Regions from separate parts of the Homo sapiens genome. Here region 1 is linked to region 2. A link means that fine-mapping ties the variant in region 2 to the expression of a gene that starts in the linked region. Tissue or cell type: blood mononuclear cells. Region 2 holds a variant in brackets; the other region holds the start of a gene. All regions are shown on one strand. Distances are from middle to middle.

Region 1 (10,103 bases), 26 kb after region 2:
CCTGCTAGCTTTCCAGTTCCTGATTCCACTCAGTCTCTTCGAATACCCAACCACTTCCCCTGTTCTTGGGTTTTATAGCCTTAATATAAATTAACTTTTTTCAGTGGCCTACCAAGGACAGAGTGGTAGAAGAGGTCCAAGCTGGGTACAGACAATAAGGGCACAGATTGTCTGTTTAGATTCATGGTGATAATAAAAAGCAGACCAACTAACTTTTAGTTCATTTTATTATTGCTTTAAATTCTCTAAAATGCTAGTGATAAAATAGTCTGCTCTGCCCCTCTTCACCCAACCCTGCTCTTTTTTGCATGAGCTAGTCTAGTTCTGTTAGATACAACCAAAGAAGCTTAAATATAACGAGAATAATGATCTTGGTCTAACCAATAGTTGAAGGGAAAACAGCTAAAGAGGCTGGGCGCAGCAGCTCACACCTGAGATCTCAGCACTCTGGGAGGCCAAGTGGGGGCAGATCACTTGAGGCCAGGAGTTCAAGACCAGCCTGGCCAACATGGCAAAACCCTGTCTCTATTAAAAATAGAAAAATTAGCCAGGCATGGTGGTGCACACTTTTAATCCCAGCTACTCGAGAGGCTGAGGCATGAGAATGGCTTGAACCCAGAAGGCGGAGGTTGCAGTGAGCCGAGATCACGCCACTGCACTCCACCCTGGGCAACAGAGCAAGACACTGACTCCAGAAAAAAAGAAAAGAAAAATTTTGAGATTTGTGATCTCACTAGCCATTTCAATTAACAACATTTCTGATTAATCAGTCTTTTCACTGCTTTTGTTCAACAAGTGTCCACTGAGCACTTTCAATGTACAAGGCAAATTCTAAGAAATTAGGATACAGTGGTGAATAATGCAGATACAGGGGCCCTGAATTCGCGGGGTCAAAATCCAGCAAAGGAACTTCCGAAACAAGGAATTTCAACAATGCACTTTACACACTATTTTTCAAAGACATATATAATAGGATCCTGCAGTAACATGGAGCAGGGGTACCCTACTTTGGTACCTAACTTAAGTTCCCAAAGGAAAAGTAAGACTTAGCCAGAAAAGTGGACATGGGATGGGAGGGGGAATCAGGCACAAGAAATCAGCAGATGCAAAAAGGCCTAGACACAGGTTCAAAATTAAAGAACTGAAAAAAGGTTCAGTGCGGCTGGGATGGAGTATGAGGAGGGGGTACGCAGTGATAAAGTCTCAGAGCAAGGCAAGGGTGGAGCCAACAAGGGCCTCATAAACCACTTTAAAAGTCCTGGATCAGATAGTAAGGGTAACAAGAAGTCACTGAAGGACTTGGTTCCAGTATGGCAGGTGGAAGAGAAGCAAGACTGGAGGCAAGAAACCAGTTAGAGGGCTGTTCCAGCGTCCAGGAAAGAGACTACGATGGCTTTAATTTTGACAGTAGCATTGGAGATGAGGGTCTGGGTCGGGCGCGGTGGCTCACGCCTATAATCCCAGCACTTTGAGAGGCCGAGGCAGGCAGATCACCTGTTCGAGACCAGCCTTGCTAACATGGTGAAATCCTGTCTCTACTAAAAATACAAAAATTAGCGGCTCGGTGTGGTGGCTCACGCCTACAATCCCAGCACTTTGGGAGGCCAAGGTGGGCGGATCACTAGGTCAGGAGTTCAAGACCAGCCTGGCCAACATGGTGAAACCCTGTCTTTACTAAAAATACAAAAATTAGCTGGGCATGGTGGCATGCACCTGTAATCCCAGCTACTCAGGGGGCTGAGGCAGGAGAATCACTTGAACCCAAGAGGCAGAGGCTGCAGTGAGCCAAGATTGTAACACTGCGCCCTAGCCTGAGTGACAGAGCAAGACTCAGTCTCAAAAAAAAAAAAATTAGCTGGGCATGGTGGCAGGCACTTGTAATCCCAGCTACTCCAGAGGCTGAGGCAGAATTGCTTGAACCTGGGAGGAGGAGGTTGCAGTGAGCCGAGATCACACTGTTGCACTCCAGCCTGGGTGACAAGAACGAAACTCCATCTCAAAAACAAAAAAAGCAAAAACAAAAACAAAACCCCTAGAACGGATAAGATACAGTGACCAAATTCAGATCCTGAAAGAGAGTCAGTGAGTAGCTGGTTATCCAAAAAAACTAGCATCACATACTAAAAAGCGGTGTCCTCTAGATCAGTGCTGTACAGAGAACTTCCTGATGTTAGGAATATGCTAGATCTGTGCTAATATAATAGCCCCTATCCACATGTAGCTACTGAGCACTTGAAATGTGCTAACACCGAGGAGGTGAATTTTTAATTTTGTGTAATTTTAATTAATTTACATTTAAATAGCCACACATGGCTACTGCCCTGGACAGCACACTCTAGATTATTGTGACACCTAACTTAAAATATATGACAGGGTTAATAAGTTTATACAATACTATATGACAAGGACAGTAAGAAAGGGAAAAATTCAGGCTGCTGGATGCAGTGGCTCACGCCTGTAATCCCAGCACTTTGAGAGGCCGAGGCGGGCGGATCACGAGGTCAAGAGATCTAGACCATCCTGGCCAACACTGTGAAACCCCGTCTCTACTAAAAATACAAAAATTAGCCGGGCGTGGTGGCGCGGGCCTATAGTCTCAGCTACTCCGGAGGCTGGGGCAGGAGAATCGCTTCAACCCAGGAGGCGGAGGTTGCAGTGAGCCGAGATTGCGCTACTGCACTCCAGCCTGGGTGACAGTGCGAGACTGTCTCAAAAAAAAAAAATGCATATTTCAAAATAAAATACACAACAAAACTTAACTTTTCAGTTTAAAAAAACTGTCTAAATATATGCAGAGAAAATAAACTACACAACCACGAACCAGTGGTTATCTTGAAGGTGAAGGATCTTCAAAGATCTTTCCTTTTCTGCTATATGTTGCTGAACTGCTTTTTTCTTTCTGTACAATGCATATGCATTACCTATCTGGGGGGAAAACAATTTCCTACTAAACCAAAAAGTGCCTATAAGTTATCACACAAACATACTTGTAATGCTGTTATAATAAAGATATGCAATACAATCACAGTGATACGAAAATATAGCAACAGCTTCTACGAACACATTATGACTTTTCTATAAGACACAACGTACACGGGAACAAGACATTCTGGGGAGAAACACATCAAGAAACTTCTCAGGTTCCCACAACAATCCACATAATTTATAAAATACTCTGAAGCTATTATTTTATATCTAAGTTACATCCTTCCTGTACTATGATGAGATGTGTCCCTTAGGATCATACATTTAGAAGACAAAATTTGACACAAATACATTCAAATCTCTATCAAATATGAAATCATCTCATTTATCCAGCAAAATCAGAGTATGGGGTATTTCTAATAAATAAACTTTCTAATATTAGTAACTGAAATTTAACCCTTTAAGCACCAAACCTTTTTACTTTGGAGGGATTTTTCCTAAAAAGTATCTATGCATCTGCACCCTCTTAAACCAATGCTACAATTGAATCTTCACTTGACATTTTGGGGCCATTGTGTTGACCATCGATTATCATTTCTAGAATTCTTATGAACATAAATTACTAGGATTTAGTGGAGAAATATATGCCCCTTCCTCAAAGCACCCTTGACTGCTATATAGTGAATTTTTTTTTTTTTCAAGTATGAAGGTAGTTTTAAATTTCTTCATCAGGCTGTCAGTGTTCACTGGCTAAGTTCGGACGTCTATCCAGGCTTTTTTCTAATATAATGCCATTAGTTACAGCCTGGGAAGCCAGGTAACTAAACTAATTAGAATTACAGGTAAATTAATAAGGACTTCCTGAGTAAGCACTAGAGGCCCTCCTATAAGAAATACCATACATTGTTTGCCGTCGATTTTGGCTGCTGAGGATGATTTAGCTTCCCACTGCCTTTTCTCTCTAGTACCCCAAGATGTTTTTTTCAATGAGCTAAGGCCGCTCTACAACTCTAAGTTAACTCCAGACAAGTCAGGTGTTGCCATCTACAGTGATTTCTAGCTGGATCTGACTCCGCCACTCATTACGTGTAAAAAGACACTGGGGAATGGAACGGTTGTCAAAATGCCCAGTTAACGACAACAAATATAAACTTTTCTTCGTATACCCTTCGCAGTAAAGTAGCAACAGCAATCGCAACCAAAATTTACTAAGCTCGCCTGCAGGATTCTCAGCCCTGTGTACAAACTCAAGTAGCTCAATATTTCTTGCTGGCTCTGGCACAGGAGCAGATCCAGACTAGATGGGTTCTAAAGTCATCCCAACAGGAAAACTAAGCTATGAACATTAAATCTTATCTCTGAAAGAGAGAATGAGGGTAGCACAGGAGTTAGAACCAACTTCTGTGCAAGCGAGCACTCCCCGACGCACCGGAAGTTTTGAAATATCCTGTGGGCTTCCCACAGGCAAAGTGGTTTTCCCTCCCCGCGGCTCTGCGGGCCCTCCCCAGGGTTCGAGGACCTCCGAGTTTGCTGCGCCCGGGGCCGGGGCCCTGGCCCTGCCACAGGCTGGGAGCGAGGCCGTCAATCACAGCCCGCGAATCACAGCCCGCGCCCCACGACTTCACCTTGGCGGCTCCCAAGCTGCGACTCGGGCAGGTGGGAGGTACCTGCGGCCCGGCTCCTGCCCCTGCCTGCTGCGACCGGGGGAGAGGCTGTCCCAGCTGGGGCCGGTGCAGGCCCCGGGGCCCCGTCTCGGGCCACGCGAGCCCTCGAGATGGTACCGCGTGGGGGCCGCGCGGCGGGGCCCTGCCCCGGGGCCCGGCAAACTCGGCTGCCCGCCCGGCCCGCCCCCCGGCGCCGCCACTCACCGAAGAATCCCTGCACGATTCCCAGCGGGTGGCTGAGCCAATCCTCCCCACACGGCATCTCGCCAGGGGCCGGGGCCGGCGAAGACCGGGCGGAGGCGATCCGCGGGCCGAGCGCGGCCGGGCGGCCGGCGCCCAGCTCCTCTTCAGCGGCTCGGCCGCTCCTCGCCCGCGTTCGCTCGCGCCCTCCCACGCACAGCGAGCCGCGGGGCGCGGGCCTCCCGCGCCTCAGGGAGCGGCGGCTGCGGTGGGGCCGCCGAGGAGCTGCTGGCGACAGTCAGGCGGGCGCGTACGGGCCCCTAGCCTTCACTTCGCACAATGGCGGGAAATAGCCGCCGCCGACCGCGCTGCCTGCGACCTGGGTGGAGCTCGCGTGGGGAGGGGCGGCGGGAGCGCGCGGCGCAGCGCGGCTCTGCGCGGCGAGGAGGAGGGGCGGCGGCGGCGCCGCCATCTTGGAGACGGGCAAAAGGAAGGGCACGCAGCGCCGCTGGAGGCTGCGCAGCGCGGGGCCCGGCGACGCGCTCCAAGGGCGGCGCGTTGTCGTTTGTACCCCTGGGCCGGCGTGTAGCGGGAACTCCCATAGTGGGCTTATAAGAGGGCAAAGCGAGTCTGCACAACAGCTGAAAAGCATTAAGCTCAGAGACCTCAGAGTCATCTCTGGGCAAAATTAGTGGGCGAAACCGCCTTGGGAATCCGCCCACCTCCTCTTCGTGCCTTTTTTTTCTTTTTTTGCTGATGGCAGCACTTTTATTTGGGTCCCCGGCCCGAAACCCTGAGTGGTGACTTTTCCCTCAGCTGCACAAGGTCTCCCTGAGGAAGGTGCACATTTAGAGAAGGGGAACCTCGGAGGACCCCACGCTCCTTCTGCAGTCGCGTCAGGCCCTGTGGCTCAGGGACGGTTCCTTACCGAGGGGCGGGCGCTCTAAACGCTCCGGGCCCGGCCTGCGCCCTGGTTGCGAACACCGGGTCGGCGTCTGTCTGGAAGCTGGCAGCCGCCGTCGGGGAGCGGTGCGAGGCTCCTGCACTGCGCGCCGCTAGGATACCCTGGAGAAGGAAGCTACGAAGACCGACTACAGCAGCCTTTTGCTGAGGCAATTTGGAAAATACCCAAGTTCAAGAGTGAAACTGTGGGAGTCGCTCTGAACCTCTTCTGGTTCAGGAGGCTGTCCGATAAAAAAGAAAAAAAGAATGAAACTGTGTCTCCCCTGGGCCTGAAATGTACCTAAGAAAACCCCAGGCCCATCAGATATATCTACTCAATGAAAAAAGGGCATGGTGACGGAAGGGGAATGACCTGAATGGAATCTACAAAGTGAGGAGCTGAAGGAAAAAAACGGAACCCGTGTCTCAAACCCTCCTTGGGGCTGTAGGAAGGGGGGAAAATCTTTCTACCTTTCTAGGTTCTCCACTGCGGCCCTTATCACAAAGCTCGGATTGGCAAAAGAAAAATTTAGTAACATGTACATCTTATATGGGCAAAACTCAAGGAAGAGTAACTCAAACAGGTGGCTTAGAATGGGGGAATTACGTAGCATTTACAATAAAGAACAATAACTGGGGAGAAATGGCGAAAGCAGTTTGAAGTTTCCAAAAACAGCAGAGTGGGAAGGCAGAGATACGAGAAACTAATGGTAGTTACAGGTAGTGAGTAAAGTGTGTTATGTAGGTTCTTCTAGCGCCATCGCTGGCTGATAAGGGTCTAAAGTTGTCTCTGGTGACTAACTTTTGTCCCTGGTAGAAAGAGGAGGTGGGACACCTTTGAAAATGTATGTCCTGCTCTTAGGTACATAGTGGAAGGGTAGGGAGCTTGTTTTGTACAGATGCTCCTCTACTTACTCTACTTAGGATGGAGTTACATCCCAATAAACCCATTGTAAATTGAAAATATCATTAGTTGAGGCCCAGCGTGGAGCCTCACTCCTGTAATCCCAATACTCTGGGAGGCCAAGGCGGGCGGATCATGAGGTCAAGAAATGGAGACCATCCTGGCCAACATGGTGAATCCCCATCTCTACTAAAAATACAAAAATTAGCTGGGCCTGGTGGCGCACGCCTGTAGTCCCAGCTACTCTGGAGGCTGAGGCAGGAGAATCACTTGAACCCGGGAGGCGGAGGTTGCAGTGAGCCAAGATCATGCCACTGCACTCCGGCCTGGTGACAGAGCGAGACTCCGTCTCAAAAAAATAAAATGTCATTAGTTGAAAATGTGTTTAATACACGGAACCTATCAAACATCAGTAGGCTACTGCAAACATGCTCAGAACACTTACATTAGCCTACGGTTGGGCAAAAGCATCTAACACAAAGCCCGTTTTATAATAAAATGTTGAATATCTCATGCAATTTATTGAATACTGTACTGAAATTTAAAAACAGAATGGCTGTGTGGGTAATTGAAGTATGGTTTCTACTGAATGGGTGTTGCTTTCACACCATCATAAAGTCAAAAAATCTTGTCAAACCACCGTTAAGTTGGGGACTGTCTGGATCTACTTTTCAGTTACCAAGATAATAATATTATAATTAAATTAATAATATGAAAATAATCCTTATGCCAAAGTGGCACATTTTGGGGTGACATTCTGGTTTACTTCAGGGCAAAAACGAATAGTTTGTATTTCTTAGTGTAAGGTAATTAATTGACACACTCAATTGTACATCTGGTTCCTGTGAGTTTGGGTACGTTGAGAAAACTTGAGTTTCAAATCCAGGTCATTACCACCATTCCATTCATTCATTTAAGAGACAGGGTTGCCAAGACCCTGGCATCAAAAGGGGAAATCCCATATTTTCGCTTCATGGCCAGTAACAGGCAAATTAAATGTATGATATGGAAATGTCTGCTCTTAAATCCCTGTAAATTCAAATTTACTTTATCTAAATTGCAGCTTGATACCAATTCAGCAGTGGCTAGTGTAAGGGAGGAAAAATATCTTTTCCGTCTACCCTTCTAGATTCTACGTTGGACCCCCTGTAACAAAAGATAGATTAACAAGAGAAAAGCATGCACTTTATTTCATACACGTTTTACAAGAAATGGGAGCCTTCATAAGGAAATGAAGATCCAAAGAAGCGTTAAAACCAAGTGTTTTTATGCTAGGTTTGATGAAGAGAGTCATAGAAGAATGTGATAGGACAAAGGTTGTGAGCTAAGTCCAGCAAACTAGGGGAAATTTAGCAAGGCCTGTGCATTAGATTCCTTTCCGTGTCCCTTCATCTTTAAGATAGGATGCTCCTGTCCTCCAGGAAGAGGGAGGGCAGCTCTCATGTCAGGGTCTTATAATCTGCTTCAGGGGAAGGCCAGGGAGCCTTTCCTGCATGTGCTATTTCTCAAATTCCTTCAGCTTAAAATACTTAATATGCCAAGGTGCCATATTTTGGGGTAGCAAGTCGTGAATCCCATCTCTGTGAAAACTTCTTTTGGTTTCTTCCTTGGTAGAGTATTTAGTGATTTATAAAAAAAAAATTGCTCGGATTTTACTTAAGGAGACACTGTGATCCTTCTGAAATGTAATTATTTTATAATGTGAATAATTTAACCCTCTGATTTTTCTGTGGCAAGACGTTTTGATACTAAGTAGTTATGGAGCTGGGGGAGGTAGTGTGCACTTGTAGTCTCAGATACTTGGGAGACTGAGGTGGGAGGATCACTTGAGCCCAGGAGTTCGAGGTTACAGTGAACTATGATCGCACCACTGCACTCCAGCCTGGGAGACAGAGGAACACTCCATTTCTAAAAATAATAACAATGACAATAATAATAAGTAGTCATGAAAATGTAAAAGGCCAGGGGAGTGTTCATGAAGGTCTGTTTCTATGGCAAGATTTCTTTTTTCCCACTATCAGTAACCACACTTCTGCCCCGACCGCGAGCCTGTATTTTTATGGAGGGCATTAAGTAACTCTGTCTATAAAAAATTACTGAGAGAGCAGCCAGGCGCGGTGGCTCACGCCTGTAATCCCAGCACTTTAGGAGGCCGAGGCGGGCGGATCACGAAGTCAGGAGATCGAGACCATCCTGGCTAACATGGTGAAACCCCGTCTCTACTAAAAAAAAATACAAAAAATTAGCTGGGCGTGGTGGCACGTGCTGGTAGTCCCAGATACTTGGGAGGCTGAGGCGGGAGAATTGGGGGAACCCTGGGGGTGGAGGTTGCATTGAGCCGAGAGCGTGCCACTGCACTCTAGCCTGGGCGACAGAGTGAAACTACGTCTCAAAAACAAACAAAAAAACAAAAACAAACAAAAAAATTACTGAGAGAGCACTGGAAATATGGGGTGAAAAAAGAGATTCCATCTCTGCCCTCATGGAACATACAGTCTAGCAGAAGACTTATTACTAATTACTCACGAGAGGTGCTAGGCAAGAATAGATGAATATTTATAAGAGGAATAAACAGATGTGTATATGTTCTAGTGAGGGAATGCTAAGGGTTGAATGTGTCCCCCAGAGTTTGGGTGTTGGAAACTTAATCCCCAATGCAACAGTGTTGAGAGGTAGGAACTTTAAGGGGCAGGGGCAGGGCCCTTATGAAGGGATTAATGTCACTATTGCAGGAGTGGGTTGGTTATAAAAGTGAGTTTGGCTCTTTCTTCCGCGTGTGTGCAGGCACGCACAGACACACACTCACACACATGCGTGCTCTTGCTTATGCTCTTTCACCTTCTCTCACCCTTTTTCCCTTTGCCTTATGATGATGCAGCAAGAAAGCCCTTGTCAGATGCCAGCATGTTGATATTGAACTTCCCAGCCTCCAGAACTGTGAGAAATAAATTTATTTATTTATTATTATTATATATATTTTTGAGACAGAGTTTGGCTCTTATTGCCCAGGCTGGAGTGCAATGGCGCGATCTTGGCTCACCGCAACCTCCGCCTCCCAGGTTCAAGCGATTCTCCTGCCTCAGCCTCCTGAGTAGGTGGGATTACAGGCATGTGCCACCATGGCCGGCTAATTTTGTGTTTTCAGTAGAGACGGGGTTTCTCCATGTTGGTTAGGCTGGTCTCAAACTCCTAATCCCAGGTGATCCGCCTGCCTCAGCCTCCCAAAGTGCTGGGATTAGAGGCGTGAGCCACCGCGCCCAGCCAATAAATTTTCTTTATAAATTACCCAGTCTGTGGCAATGTTATGGCAGCACAAAATGCTCTAAAACAAGAGAATGGGGAAGAATTGTGGGGTAGGAGAAAAGGATGCTTCAGGGCTTCTCTGAAAATGTGACACTTACACTAGAATTTGAAAGATAAATAACAGTAAATTAGGTGAAAATTGTGGGGGAAAGATTTTTAAGCTTTAAGACTGCAAAAACAAAAAC
Region 2 (10,103 bases):
GCATAGTGAAATACTTTGCAGCCACTACAAAGTTCATGAAGCATTATGATGGGAAAATGTTTAATATATATCAACTGCTGAAAACAAGACACGCATCTGTGCTTAGAGTGTAACTAAGACCTATGCAAGGATGTATACATATGTAAACAAAAACCAATGAACATGTACCTAAAGGTTAACGGAGGTTCTAAGTGGTGAAATTACAGATGATGTGCATTTTCCTCCTTATGTTCTTGGAACTTGTCAAAGGCCCACACTAGTTTTAAAATGAGAAACAAAGAAATACAGTGGAGTCAAGGGATGCGGTGCTAGTGTCAATGTCCACGTTAAACGTGCACATGACGTGGGCGCCTTGGGATGTATAAACAGAGCGTTCAGAATGCAAAAGGGATAAAACAGCTCATTTTACTCATCAGCCAGGTCCTTTATCTCAGGGGTCCCCAACGCCCAGGCCGTGGACCAGTACTGGTTCATGGCCTGTTAGGAACCGGGCCACAACATAGGAGGTGAGGGGTGGATGAGTGGGCATTACCGCCTGAGTTCCGCCTCCTGTCAGATCAGCAGTGGCATCAGACTCTCACAGGAGCGCGAACCCTATTGTGAACTGCACATCTGTGTGTTCCCTATGAGAATCTAACTAATGCCTGATGTTCTGAGGTGGAACGGTTTCATACTGAAACCATCCCCACTCCGGTCCATGGAAAAATGGTCTTCCATGAAATGGGTCCTTGGTGCCTAAAAGGTTGGGGACCACTGCTTTATCTGATTTTGGCTCTAAAATTTAAGGGGACATAATCAAAATGCTAAATGTGAACTGTGAGAAAAGGAATTTGTCTGTGATTTGGTATAACAGTTAACACTGGACAGATAAAAACCATGTGATGAAGCCCAATAAGGAAAACACACAAATGACACCAGCAATCTTCCCGCTCTTCCACTTCCACACACACCAAACTCCCCTAATTCCCACCAGGATACAGCACTTACACTGTGGAGATGAGATGTAATATAAGGTATTCAGCAGCCAAACTATCCCCCAGAAGGGCATGAGTAAGGAACCCAAGAAGTTCTGCTCTGACTGGAGACAATTCGGACATGAAACTTGAAACAACTGAAGGAGAAAGGAAGACCTGAGTCAGGACACACACTCCAGTTCCTCTCAAGTGTCTTAGGTAAAAAAATAACTACGTGAGCAAAGCACAATTCAGTCGACAGTAGGTAAAGCTTAACATATCCGTCAGTAAGTGATGCTAATCTTAAAAATAAGGCAGTTTGCATCCTCCTTTTTTTTTTTTTTGAGACCAAGTTTTGCTCTTTTTGCCTAGCCTGGAGTGCAATGGTGCCATCTCAGCTCACCGCAACCTCTGCCTCCAGTTCTCCTGCCTCAGCCTCCCGAGTAGCTGGGATTACAGGCACACGCCACCACACCTGGCTAATTTTGTATTTTTAGTAGAGCCAGGGTTTCACTATATTGGCCAGGCTAGTCTCGAACTCCTGACCTCAGGTGATCCACCCACCTTGGCCTCCTAAAGTGCTAAGATTACAGGCGTGAGCCACTGCACCCAGCCTTGTATACTCTTTTGTCCTCATTTCAGTGAAGAGAATTAATGTAAGAGAAAAATGGGGCAACGAGAGAGAGATTACTGAAAACACTTATTGTGAGGAATGAAGACCTGACTCTCAATTCCACTATGAGCACGTTACAGGCAGCTCTGGACACACTGAGGCTAACAGTCGATAGTTGACTAGGCTGTAACACTTACACTTACAGGTTTTGCTCTCCTCTTTGTTAAGGCAGGCAGGCAATAATGGGTTGATGTGTTGCAACTTCTGGGCTAAGATCACATGAATTCTCGGCACTAATGAAGCAGGAGGACTGTGTACTCTCTGCTCCTCTGCTGTGTCTGTGCACTCCATCGGATCCAGCAGTGCAGAGGCATCCCTGTGGAGAGGTGATAAAGTTTCAATTTAGAGAGACATCAATTGCACAGATGCAAAAATAATGTGCATCTTGGAAAACAAAATTAGAGTTAAAGCCAAGAATATTTCCACCTGTACATCTCCTTAAAGAACAGAAAGTGGCCTCTCATTCTAAAGTGTTACATCACACAGACTTCAGGCTTGTTAAGACATATCATGAAATAATGCATTTATTCAATTTTTCAAGAACGGTATTTTTATTTTTATTTTTTTTTTGGATGGAGTCTCACTGTGTTGCCCAGGCTGGAGTGCAGTGATGCGATCTTGGCTCATTGCAACCTCTGCCTCCTGGGTTCAAGCGATTCTCATGCCTCAGCCTCCTGAGTAGCTGAGATTACAGGTGCACACCACCATGCCTGGCTAATTTTTGTATTTTTAGTAGAGACAGGGTTTCACTATGTTGGCCAGGCTGGTCTCGAACTCCTGACCTCAAGTGATCTGCCTGCCTTGGCCTCTCAAAGTGCTGGGATTACAGGCGTGAGCCACCATGCCTGGCCAGAAACAATAATATTTGTTATTCAGCACTTCAATAAATGGAATGTAGGATGTCACTCATAAGGCTATTTCAAAACACAGGTACTCCTTGAACTATTGGCCGGGACATCGAATACTTGACAGCAGATCTCAAAAACTGGGGTCTTTTTCTCAAAAGCCATCTGGTATCTATTATTCAGCGTGTGGAGAATCCATTCATCTCTTATCTTGCTAATTGTTTTTCCTAAATTTAATTCTTACATGATCCCTCGAAGACTGAGTAGACAAGCAATGAAAGTATGAATTTTTCAGACTTGCTAAATAAATCTGCAGATGATAGATTTGTGAGACGACCAAAACAAATAGCTAATCTTTTAGATCTTGACTTTATAGAATCTATAGACACTGAAGTAATAAATTCATACTCCTGTATTTTTTAATACAAGCATAATAACCTTTTCCATAGTACGTACCATGTGACAGACAACGTTCAATGCCTTACACGTACAAATTCACCAAAACCTCACATCTACCCTTATTTACAATGAGGAAACCAAGCCCAAGGTGACATAGCTAGTAAGTGGCCAAGTCAGGACTCCAACCCAGGCTGCCTGCCTGTCTGTGCTCTTAACCTCTGTGATGGTTAATACTTTGTCAATCTGACTGGATTGAAGGATGAAAATTATTGTTCCTGGATGTGTCTGTGAGGGTGTTGCCAAAGGAGATTAACATTTGAGTCAGCGGGCTGGGAGAGGCAGACCCACCCTCAGTCTGGGTGGGCAGCATCTAATCAGCTGCCAGCATAAAGGCAGGCATGTAAAGAGCAGACTGGCTGAGTCTTCCGCCTCCACCTTTCTCTCATGCTGGATGCTTCCTGCCCTCAAACATCAGACTCCAAGTTCTTCAGCTTTTGGACTCTTGGACCTACACCAGTGGTTCACCAGGAGCTCTTAGGCCTTCAGCCACGGACTGAAGCCTACACTGGTGGCTTCCCTACTTTTGAGATTTTGGGACTCAGGCTGGCTTCCTTGCTCCCCAGCCTATTGTGGGATTTTACCTTGTGATCATGTGAGTCATTCTCCTAATAAACTCCCCTTCATATATTCATCTATCCTATCAGTTCTGACCCTTTAGAGACCCCTAATACAACCTCTAAACTAAACTACATCAATAGTGAAGTAACTAAAGCAGGAAAGTCATCACAATCAGAAATTGCCAAGATGAACAATCTCATATACTATTATTAAGGGACGGTTAAGCTTATTTAAAGTTGTTTAAAATTTTTGTTTTGTACCATTTTTTTTTAACTGTGAAAAATGTTAAGTTCATCCTACACAGAAACTAAGATGATTAATGTCCGGTATTCAACAAGAGGACTCTGGTGTAGATGAGGGACATCAGCCCTTGCTTTTGGCAATCTCAAAACAAAACAAAAATGAATGAGGAAGGTCTAGATTTCCAAGATATGTTGTTAATAAAAAAAATTAAAAAGTGTAAGAGTATATATACCATGTTACCTTTTATAGAAGAAAAAGGTAGAAATAAAATGTATACGTATCTTCATATTTTTGTAAAAAAATAAATACAGGAAGGATAAACCAGAAACTGTGGTTCCCTAAGGAGGCTGGGTGGGAACAGACAGCAGGAATGGGGATAGCCGAGAATGACACCTCTGAGAATCTTTCTAAGTAAAATAAATAATGAAATCACACTGAAGGGGAAGAAAAGTTACCTGAGTAAGTGGAACATAGCTCTGACTACACAGCTGCATTCTAAAATAAAAATGAACTGGAAATGTATTGAACTCTAATTACTAGGTTTCTGTTTTGTAGTGGTATGGGTTACCAATTCTGAAATTCCCTTCTGTATATGGTAGAAATGGGGAAACAACAGATTGTGAATAATGGGAATCAAATTTGTTAGAAAA[A/G]GAAGTCATAAATATAGAAAGGAGAACAACTAGAACATGTGACTCCTGCTGTGCTGAACTGGAATCAGAAATATGAACCCATGGTTTTTCACAGACATTAGAAATACACAAAACATGCATGTGAGTGTGTATGTGTGCATTTAAATGTGGGTGCGTATATATGTATCCATATGCTGCATGTATCCTAGCTCTGTCTACTTTAAGGGCCTAGATGCAAATCTAATCCAGTACCAACGAGCACATCTAGGACTCAGATCTTCAAAGCATACGATGAAGCTGCAACAGCTTAATATGCCAGAAAATAAATGTTAAAAAATGATAACATCATCTCAAAAAAAGGACCCGGCACCTGCTTAAAGTGGCTCCCACTAGCCAAATCTGGGAAAATTTGGGTCTCGAAATAAAATAATGATATTAACATTGAATAAAATCAGAATCTATTAGTCTATACTAAATATAAGTAAATACATTACTTGAATAAACAAATGGAAGAGGTATCTTTTATAGTAGAATGCCAATAAATAAATGTACTGCGTTAGAAAATTGCCAACAAAGTAATAACTGATTCAAGCAAGAATCATCAATGAATGCTAAAATAAATTGGTGAAAGTTTAATGAGAAACTGGATATTTATGTCCCCAAGTACCTTCCTCCAAGTTACTTGTCAATTACAAAGTGAGAAATGTAACTTTACAGAAGAGACATCTGGAAGTCACCACCTTAACCAACTAATGAAAATTAACCTCACCAGTAAAGGGACAAACTGACATCGCATGCCTCCTGCTGTAACATACTGAGGATACATCAATTCTGTAATATTCCTGCCAAAAATGCAAAACATTGAGTCTAACCATGAGGAAACAAGTAACTGGTAACTGGCTTACACTCTTCAAAAGCATCAAGGCTGTCTGCTCTCTACCACGTGAGAAGACAGCCATCTGTAAACCAGGAAGCGGGCCCTCACTAGAAACCAGATCTGCTGGGAACTTGATTTTGGACTTCCCAGCCTCCAGAACTACTGGAAGACATATATTTCTGTTGTTTAAGGAAAAAAAAAAAGTGGCAAGACCATGAAAGACAAAGGCTGAGGACTGTTTCAGATTGAACTCTAGTTATTTAGGTTTATGTTTTGTAAAGGTATGAGTTAACAATTCTGAAATTCCCTTCTCTATGTTGTAAAAATGTGCAAATGATAAGATTGTGAAAAATGGGAATCAAGTTTAAGAGAGTTACACTAATACAGAAAGGAGAACAAGCAGAACGACACCTGTGGTGCTGAACTGGAATCAGAAATACAGTATGAACTCAGTAGAAATAGAGAATGAGCGAGCTTCTGAACCCTGGACTGGGGGATGCAGAAGGGAGACGTGTAAGAAAGAACATGATTAAGACAATTAGTGAAATTAAGTATAGATTGTGGATTAGTGTATTGTATATTTGTGGCAAATTTCCTAGTTTTGATACCTGTACTCTAATTATATATGAGAAAGTCAGTACTCTTAGGAAATGTTGACAAGCAGTTAGGGGTAAAAGGGCTTGATTTCTGCAACATACTTTCAAGTGTTTCAGAAAAATGTGTGCATAGAGAGCACAAATGAATGACAAAACACATGGGGTGCAAGTGTTTACAACTGGTACATCTGGGAGAAAGGGAAAAGGGAGTTCTTTAAAACCATCCTGTAACTCTCCTGAAAACTTGAAATTATATAAAAATAAAGGAGACCAAAAAAAGAGCACACAGACTCACCTTTCATCATTATTCAGTATACTCAGCACAGGATCCACAGACAGTATGCCATATAGCTCAAGAATGTCATTTACTTTGAAACAATCCCAATCTTCATAAACCTAACAAGAGACCACATGAAATCACACTGTTAGAACAGACACAAAGCTTAAGATATTAGTCTTGAAGTACCAATATCTTGGAATTTTAGATCAGGAAACAGACCTTAAAGCAAGTCCTTTATTTTATAAATTTTTATAAATTGAGACCAAGAGTCATTCTGCTAGTTAGCAAATAAGTGAAAAACCAAAACACAGGATGCCTAACTTCCAGACTAATGTCTGTTTTCAATATACCACAGTACTACAAAAAAAAAAGGCTTTTCCTAAAATTAAAAAAAGCCTTTTCCCAAAGGCTGACAGTTAAAACTAGAACTGTGCACTATCTCAAAACCTATTAAACCACACCAAGAAAAGGAAAAAACAAAAACAAGATGATTAACTTTGCATTTATTCATAAACTGCAACATCGGATTAACACAAAACTTGGAATGGCCAGAAGATTTTTCACAATTTAAAAAAAAAAAAAAACCTTTCAAAATTGTCTGTCATGATGGACTTAGTAATAGTCAAGGCCATTTACTGATTAGACCTGGTAGAAGCAAGGCAGGGGAAAAAATGGTAATTTTGGTCCCTGTGCCATATGACTTAAGTGTCATTTCAGTTAAAACCACTGAGAATCTGGGTGCAGTGGCTCACCCCTGGAATCCCAGAACTTTGGGAGGCTGAGGTGGGTGGGTCACTTGAGGTCAGGAGTTCGAGACCAGCCTGGCCAACATAGTGAAACCCCATCTCTACAAAAAATATAAAGAACGAGCTGGGTGTGGTGGTGCATGCCTGTAATCTCAGCTACTCAGGAGGCTGAGGCACGAGAATTGCCTGAACCCAGGAGGTAGAAGTTGCAGTGAGCCGAGATCGTGCCACTGCACACCAGCCTGGACAAGAGAGTGAGACTGCCTCAAAAAAACAAACAAAAAAACCCCCCAAAAACAAAAAAACCCAAAATGCACAAAGAATAAGGATAGAAATCCTTAACAATCATTTCTGAACCTTCTATCACTTGCTCATTTATCAGGATCAAAACACTAGAATAAGTAAGATGGAAGAACAAACTATTAAAAGTTTTCTTCCTTCTGTTTTATTTTAAATATAAGTGAAAAATAGGTTTTGCTGAGAGAAGGAAGAAGACAAAAATGAAGAAGATATTATGTTAGAAATGATACAGGAAGGGAACAGACATAATTTAAAAGTTGTTCTGCTTCTGCATTTGAGATGTTCTTCGATTCTTTTAACTTGTTAGCTTACATGCAAAAGGAATGTGCAGGTGTGATTAAATTAATAACCTTGAAATGGGGGGGATTATCCTCGATTAACTGGCTGGGCCCCATGTAATCACACGGATTCTTAAAATTGGGGAAACTTTCTTGGTTGTGGTCAGATGAGATGTCAACATGAAAAAAATGGTCAGACAAATGCAATGTTGCTGGCTATGAATATGGAAGAAGGAGCCACAAGGCCAAGGAAATTCTCCCTTAGGGGCTCCGAGAAAGGAATGTAGCCCTGCTGGCACCTCGAGTTTACCCCAGTGAGACCATGTTGGATTTCTGACCTAAAGCCTGTAAGATGATAAACTTTTGCTGCTTTAGGCTATTAAATTTGCAGTGATTTGCTATAGCTAGCCCAGCACAAGGGAACAAATGCAAATGCTCAGACACTAAGCTACTTTCTGAGACACATAACATTTCAGTGTTGGATCTACGAAAGGTTTTATTACCTTCACAAGGCATGCAGGGCCCTTCTCTCCTGGCAATGGAAAATTCAAATCAAAAGGAGAAGACAAGTTCAGAGAGTTCAGCTGTTGCCCAGTAGAAGCTTCAGTTTCTAAACGTTTTGGCTCTCCACACCATTGAAGACCACCAACACTCCCTAAATTCAAAGGATAGCATTGCACTTAGTCATTTCTAAGGCCTCCTGGAGAAAAAGAACATTCCATAAGTGCCTTTCAAGTTTGATATACGTGATGCTTCTGAGCTTGCAAAGTTCAAGTTGTTACAGTTTTTAAGGAAACAGCACATACTAACAAAGTCTTTTGTTTGATCTGTAAGAGGACAAAGATAAACATGAAGATCTAAAAATTTTACTTTTTTTTCCCTTACTGTAAGATATCAACAAATTCCTCCCATCAAATCTCATGTATAACCAGTTTCAAAAGTTGATTTGCAATATGGTTACTTTGACATCTTTGATTTAAGGAATACATGGTCTACCGACAGCAAAACTCCTTGGTAGAACATACTTTTTCTATTAATTAAGCAGAATAAAACCATACAGCAATAAATTAATTTACCAAATACTTATTAATATCCAGTATGTACCAGGAATCAAACCAGTTGTTGGGGATATACAGGTCATTAAAAGAATAACCCCAACTCCTGAAGTAGTTACACTTTAGGGCTGATAACATGAGAATCAAATTATAGCCTGCCATACCACGAAACACCACTCAGCAATAAAACGGACAAACTACTGATACATGCAACAATTGGGATGGATCTCAAGGGAATTGTGCTGAAGAAAAGACAATCCCCAAAGTTTATGTAATATACAATTCCATTCTTAAAATGACAAAATTATAAGAGATGGAGAAGAGACCAGTGGTTGCTAGGGTCTAGAGACTTCTGGGGACGGAGGAGGCAGGAGAGTGGTAGTTAGGAGCATAAAAGGGCAACATGAGAGATCTGGGTAATGAAATATTCCCGATTTTAACTGTGGTGGTGGTCACATGAATCTACCTATGCGATAAAACTGCAAAGAACAGGCCAGGTGCAGTGGCTCAAGCCTGTAATCCCAGCACTTTGGGAGGCTGAGGCAGGTGGATCACGAGGTCAGGAGATTGAGACCATCCTGGCTAACACGGTGAAACCCCGTCTCTACTAAAAATACAAAAAATTAGCCAGGCGTGGTGATGGGGGCCTGTAGTCCCAGCTACTCGGGAGGCTGAGGCAGGAGAATGGCGTGAACCCAGGAGGCGGAGCTTGCAGTGAGCAGAGATTGCACCACTGCACTCCAGTCTGGGTGACAGAGCAAGACTCCGTCTAAAAAAAAAAAAAAAAAGGAAAAAAAATGATTGTATCAATATCCACTTCCTGGTTATGACATTCTACTATAATTACGTAAGGTATTACCACTGGGGGAAGTAGAGGCTAAAAGGTATACAAGATCTGTTTTTTTTTTTTTTTTTTGAGACAGAGTCTCACCCTGTCACCCAGGCTGGAGCATGGTGGCGATCAGCGCTCACTGCAACCTTCGCCTCCCGGGTTCAAGCAATTCTCCTGCCTCAGTCTCCCAAGTAGCTGGGATTACAGGCGTGCACCACCATGCCCAGCTAATTTTTGTATTTTTAGTAGAGATGGGGTTTCACCATGTTTGCCAGACTGGAACTCCTGACCTCAAGTGATGTGCCTGCCTCGGCCTCCTGAAGGGCTGGGATTATAGGTGTGAGCCACCGCAACCAGCCTCTCTGTATTATTTCTTACAACTGCATGTAAGTCTATACTGTGTCAAAATAAAAAGTTTAAAAATATGTATAGCCTAAAACATTGACTAAACACCAACAAGTGTTACTTTATATAAATAAAGTACTCAAATGCATAAAAAGCCTGCATTAAGACATTCAAACAAGAATGGTAAGAAATAAAAAGTAGCATCAACTGCTTAAGTGATAAGAGAATTAACATATTTCCTGGACTTAAATACACACTCGAATATATTACAATATATAAGTTACTATGATATTTATTTGAGATGGAGTCTCTCTGTCACTCTGGCTGGAGTGCAATGGCATGATCTCAGCTCACTGCAACCTCCGCCCCTCTGGGTTCAAGTGATTCTACTGCCTTAGCCTCCCAAACAGCTGGGATTACAGGCGCCTGCCACC

The links.
Region 1: it holds the start of MCMBP, and the variant in region 2 is fine-mapped to the expression of MCMBP in blood mononuclear cells (TOPMed, PIP 0.96). The same link has a PIP of 0.9 or more in monocytes.

What each region holds. Positions count from the first base shown.
Region 1 is chr10:119,867,734-119,877,836 of GRCh38, forward strand. It overlaps MCMBP (minichromosome maintenance complex binding protein), which reads right to left and starts at 5,110. Exons shown (of 16, transcript NM_001256378.2): 1 at 4,794-5,110. The coding sequence starts at 4,851. RefSeq lists a silencer at 4,565-5,214 and enhancers at 5,445-5,604, 5,470-5,639.
Region 2 is chr10:119,841,485-119,851,587 of GRCh38, forward strand. MCMBP (minichromosome maintenance complex binding protein) reads right to left here. Exons shown (of 16, transcript NM_001256378.2): 7 at 7,941-8,092; 8 at 6,129-6,229; 9 at 1,770-1,942; 10 at 988-1,111. Among named protein-coding and RNA genes, the nearest start is that of MCMBP, 26 kb to the right of the region's middle. RefSeq lists an enhancer at 9,013-9,512. The variant A/G (reference allele first, on the strand shown) is at 4,382.